Homo sapiens: one gene and its partner. The protein of the gene in region 2 interacts with the protein of the main gene of each other region in a pairwise test. Each region holds a gene or a part of one and is shown on either strand. Other genes may lie near its edges.

Region 1 (2,514 bases), on a different chromosome or scaffold from region 2:
TGGCATCCCACACACCAGTCTGATGCCACATCTGTTCTCTTACCAACCACTGGCACCTGCATCCCTTATGCCAACAGTGCCGTGCCACTATGTTCACCCATTTTCTGTAATTATGTGGCAAATACGTTCCCTTCATCTGGAACTCTGAAGCCACTTAAGATGCAACACAGATTCCCGGTGGGCTACTAAACAGACTGCCCAGTGTAGACTCCATAATGAGTGTGGTTTCCAACAATTTTTGCATGGATTCTGAAAAATCACTATGTATTGAAAATTTATGTTCATAAGTCATTTTTCATGAACACTGATAGTTCAGCAATAACTGATTTTCACAAAGTAGATGCAGGGTTTTCAGTCACTAAATGAATTCAACAAAATGTTTACTGTGCAATACAAAGGTGATGCACGCTAATATTCTCAGAGAAATTATAGGAAACTGAGTAGCTTGAATTTGGACCAAAAATGTCAGAAAAAAGGTATTCAAGTGGAAAAAAATCCAGTGAACTCTAATAGATGGTTTATTGGAAACGCTCATAGCATCTTTTGAAAAGAACTTGACAGGTTTTATTTTAATAAGACATAGTGAAGAGGAAATGGCTTAAAAGATATCATCAATCTTTTATTTAACTAAGCACTGCCCTTCATTTTGAAGGAAATGATACAATTTCAAATCGGAACTTCCTTCTCAAGAAGTGATATAAGAATGTAACATTGATTTAACATACAACCTTCAACAAAAATAAAGTTTATACAACTCACTGGGAAATAAAATGCATGTGGAATTTATCCTGTTTGTCAACATAATTCTTCATGAGTCACAAGTATTATAGCCAAGAACAAAACAACAAAAAGCTGAATCAGTTGATAGTTACTCTGATTTAAAAAACATTTCACAAATAAGATGTAGCTTTCCAAACAAATCCATTCGATGACCATTATCACAACTATATTTTATTCTAATTTATAAAACAAAAAATGGTTAGACAAGCACATGATATCAAGAGTCTTCAACACAGTGGATTCCATTTTATTAAGAAAAAAAATAGAAAACAAGTAGTCCTTAAATTGTCTTAGCTCTCCATAGCATACGTTATATAAAATTAAAGTTTTGCTTCCAAAAATATGTTTCCATGTGGTCGTGGTGTTGTCCAGTGCTATTAGGGCCAAAGCACCAAAGACATGAGAAGTTTAACCATCGACTTGTCATTTTTCATAAAAACTAAACATTTCCTTATAGGTCTGGAGTAAAATCTTCTAGGCATTTTAGTGCTAAAAGTCACTTTAAATTAAATGTGAAATAAAAGCTACAAAAAGTATGAGTTCTTTCAATACAAAAAGTTGTGTAGCTGAAGTTGTGGGCTCCTTTGACATACATAAGCAGTTTCAATAAAATATTTGCTCAGGTAAGAAAATAGAAATTTGTCTGCTTTCATTTAGCATACGTTCCAGTCGATGTCCTGCTTATCCCTGCCAGAACTTCTGAAGAACATTAGAATCGATATTTCTTTCCTTCAAAGAGCATCCGTAATTCACAGTACAAAACAGTTCTACAGTCTTATTCCTAAGGAGAAACAAAAATTATTAAATATGTTTATTTTTTCTAAAGTGTCAAATGTAGCCACTGCCAGGGCATTAAAAACTCACTTATCCACAACACTGCCGTCTTCAGGAAAGAACCAAGAGTTGATTCATTCCCCTTTCCTGGAGCTGTTACTAGTTGGTTGTTGCTTTAAGTGTAATAACCCTAAGAAAATTCCCAATAAAAATCACTGTTCTTAAGTGTCACATATTTCACACCTCTGGTACCCTGTAGAAACGCTTGTATTACATGGGAAAGCAGCATCTGAAAAGATCTATTTCCTATTCTAGTTCATTTCCAAGCCCTGTTATTGAAAACCTCTTCTCTAGAAGAGAGAGTCACTGCTCTCTCTTAACACAGTCGCTGCTATACTTCAGCGTGACTGACCATACATCATTTTCCATTCTGGGACAGAGGAAGAAGACGGGTGGGGGAGTTGATCTGGCTAGCCCAGAGCTGGACAGTGCCATTCTATTCTTCCCTCCCACTTGTCTACACGGTGGTTATTACTACTTGCTCTGCTGCCCAGGCTGGAGTGCAGTGGTGCGATCTCGGCTCACTGCAACCTCTGCTTCCCAGCTTCAAGCAATTCTTCTGCCTCAGGCTCCCAAGTAGCAGGCATTACAGGCGCCTGCCACCACGCCCAGCTAATTTTCTGTATTTGTGGTAGAGACAGGGTTTCGCCATGTTGGCCAGGCTGGTCTCGAACTCCTAACTTCAGGTGATCTACCTGCCTCAGCCTCCCAAAGTGCTGGGATTACAGGCATGAGCCACTGTGCCCGGCCTACCTTCTATTTTCACTACTGTGTTAAGCATGAAAGAAAATCCAACTGGGTTAGATACAGCAGGTTCTCCTAAATGTCTTAACCCATGTTTATCTTGTTCTGCTATTCCATGAGCAAAGAGAATAAACACAAAGCTGTGAGAGTATTAAA
Region 2 (3,500 bases):
TGAAAAGTGCAGGTGACAGCCTTCATTAAGGACACATTTACTCACCTGAATGAACAAGCAGTGGGACCCTTTATACCCAGTCACTTGGGCTTGAGAAATAGCTGGATTCTCCCCAGGGAGGCTGTCCTCCTCCCCCTCCCCCACTTCCCTGATTTAAGGTTGAAGATGGCTGGAATGCACCCCACCTATGAAGAGCAGTGGACATGGCTGGGGGTAGAGCCAGAACAAGCACTCAAAAGAACACAGGCCAAACAGGAGACTCGGGGCAGCCAAGTGGAACCAGAACAGGACATAAAGTGAGCGTGTACATCCAACAGCCATGAGTAATATCAAAAAGGTTGTAGCCTGGCCAGCACGGCGAAACCCCATCTCTACAAAAAATACAAAAAGTAGCTGGGCATGGCAGCATGCACCTGTAATCCCAGCTACTTGGGAGGCTGAGGCAGGAGAATCACTTGAACCCGGGGGCCAGAGGTTGCAGTGAGCTGAGATCGTGCCACTGCACTCCAGCCAGGGTGACAGAACAAGAACCTGTCTCAAAAAAAAAAATAAAACAGGTTGTAACCCATCCTCCAAGATACCCCCCATACATCTAAAACAATTAGATTAAACACTCAACAAAGTAAACATGTTTCTGTCCTCTGTCTCATGTCTCTCAGGCAGCAGGGCTTCCCATGTATTTTATGCTAGCAGGCACTGTCCCACACCCACCTGAAGCCACGGGTGTCTTAAGGCTTCTTCTGTCGTAAAACGTGCCTTTGGATCCACTACCAACAACTTCTTGACAAGGTCCAGAGCTAAAGCAACAATTGGGCAAATCACAGTGAAAAGGATAAATATATTATCAGTAAGAGTATGCCAGAATTAACAGGCCACCATTCAGAAAGAGCAGAGAGGGTCTGAGATCATCACGGAGTCAGCAGACAGGGCCCCCTAATCTTCCTCACTCTCTGTATTCAGAGTACTGTGAGAAGACCAGGAATGATAATGACACTCCCTGTCTCCTGCTGCTGGGACGTCAGTCACGACCTCTTCACTGCCTGTTCCCTCTCTTGTTGCTAGACTCAAGGTCGGACTAATTAAAGCTAAACTTCTACCCAATTCTAAGATACTTGGGATGCACAGCAAACTCTCTCTGACATCTACAGATGGATAGGTGACAGTTACTCAGCGAGGGAGAGGCTCCCTGGAACTGCAGACTTGTCAGAAATAAAACTTGGCTACTCCAGCAAGCAACAAATGCACGCTGGCCTGTATATTACAACATTATTATTCCTTAAATATTCTGACATTTAACACAATCACCTATGTTATGTTATTTGACATTTAATTTTCTACTTTCTCTTCAGGGAACTAAAGTTGCCAGGATAAATTATAAAATACAAGGTAACTAATGACATCTAGTTTTTACATGCTTGCTTACTCAAAGGAAACCTTGTAACTAAAAAGTTACAAGTGCATTTATTTTGCTCACTAAAATAGGTACCAGGCACTTGTGTACATGATACTTAACCCTCACAAAAACCTTTTAAGGTAGGGTTTATTGAGGGTCCCTTTACACAGAAAGAAATTGGAGATGGAGGTTAAATAACTTGCCTAAGGCCACACAGCTAAGTAGTAGCAGACCCAGGACCTGAGTGCATGCTCTTAATAATTTCCAGTGCCTCTCAAATGGTGTGAAACTAACAATAGAAAATAAGAACAGAATTGACAGGAGAAAACACCATGGAATTTGGGAAGAAACTCCCACCACAGCACATACACATTTTAGCATACCACAAATTCTTAACCCTTTCATATTCATACCTTTCTCTGAGACTTCTGCCCAGACTTCAGGAATGAAGTTGTATTTTCCACTGGTGATCTGATCCTTCAGTGACACTTGAGTCCTATGCTCAGAGAAAGGTGGATACCCACTAAGGCTTAATATTGGTAGAGAGAGAAAGGAAAAGAAATCAAGTGGCATTCTCAGTGGCATTCAGATATAAAGATTTCTTTTTCAGCATAATGAAAAGTCAGATTTTTCTTTAAATCAATGGTCAAAAAGTGAGCTAGGCTGGGCACAATGCCTTAGGCTTGTAATCCCAGCACTTTGGGAGGCCGAGGCAGGAGGATCACTTGAGCCCAGGAGTTCGAGACCAGCCTGGGCAACATGGCAAAACCCCATCACTACAAAAAATAGAAAAATTAGCTGGGCATGGTGGTGTGCATCTGTAGTCCCAGCTACTCGGGAGGCTGAGGTGGGAGGATCACTTGACCCAGGAGGCAGAGGCTACAGTTAGCCAAGATCAAGCCACTGCATGCCAGCCTGGACAACAGAGCAAGACACATTTGTGACTTCATCTAATCACCTCCTACCAGTCTGTGCAGCAATGAAAATATTTCTTACCAGATAAAAAGAATAACTCCTAAACTCCAGCAGTCCACAGCACGGTTATACCCAGCAGTCCCAACAGAAACAAGAACTTCAGGCGCCAAGTAGGTGGGGGTTCCACATAAGGTTCTCATGAGAGAGGTCTCTCCCAAAATCTTGGAGTGCCCAAAATCAGTAATCTAAAATTCAGTACAAAAGGGAATAATGTTGAACTTGCCATAAAATAAAAAGATTAACATAGTCTGCCAGTCCAAGAAGACACGTAGGCTAGATCAGTTTCTATTGTACAATTCACACCTGCCATTAATCTGGAATTTACAGATTCATGTCTTTGCAAGTTAGGACATTTAATTTTGCTTAAATTAAAATTCCTGAGCCTAGGAATCTCAACACTCAGGCTTTCCAACTTAACCTATGTCCTCTGTAATCTTACAAAAAGCTTATTATCTTTATCACAGACACTTCAGGATTCTAATTAGTTCTACATGGTTCTTAGACCCCAGTGTCTCAAACTTGGCTGCGCTATGGAATACCTGGGGAGCTTGGAAACACATGCTTATACCTGAGTGCCACTCTCAGCTTCTGAGGTAAAGCCTGGGTGTCATAAATCCTAACAAGAGATTCTAAAGTGATGCCAGACTTGAGAAACAGGGAAAGGCAGCGCATGTGATTACTCATTCATTCATTCACCTATTCTGAGATGATGTCTGGCCCTTTTGCACAGGCTGGAGTGCAGTGGTGCGATCTCAGCTCACTGCAACTTCTGCCTCCCAGGTTCAAGTGATTCTCGTGTCTCAGCCTCCCAAGTAGCTGGGATTACAGACACCCACCACCATGCCCAGCTAAATTTTTGTATTTTTTGCCATGTTGGCCAGGTTGGTCTCAAACTCCTGACCTCAGGTGATCTGCCCACCTCGGCCTCCCAAAGTGCTGGGATTACAGGTGTGAGCCACCATACCCAGCCCACTCGTCCATTTAGACCCCTCCTCTCTCTCTAAGCACAAAGGTCACTTGTACACAACAGAGCTCAATAAATGCTCATTCGAATCTGGATAAGAGCAGTATCACCTGATCTCTAAAATAATTGGTAACAGTGAAAGGGTCAGATTCTCATCCTTTTTACGCT

Evidence for each region.
Region 1: the proteins of CHEK2 (region 2) and LRATD2 interact in binary tests that used the Homo sapiens proteins (3 or more experiments, as listed by UniProt).

Annotation. Positions count from the first base shown.
Region 1 is NC_000008.11:126,551,943-126,554,456, forward strand, and holds the end of LRATD2 (protein LRATD2), read right to left. Parts: 3' UTR 501-2,514; downstream 1-500.
Region 2 is NC_000022.11:28,693,321-28,696,820, forward strand, and holds part of CHEK2 (serine/threonine-protein kinase Chk2), read right to left. Parts: intron 2,554-3,500; coding exon 2,390-2,553; intron 1,923-2,389; coding exon 1,807-1,922; intron 798-1,806; coding exon 712-797; intron 1-711. UniProt on the Homo sapiens protein: Serine/threonine-protein kinase which is required for checkpoint-mediated cell cycle arrest, activation of DNA repair and apoptosis in response to the presence of DNA double-strand breaks.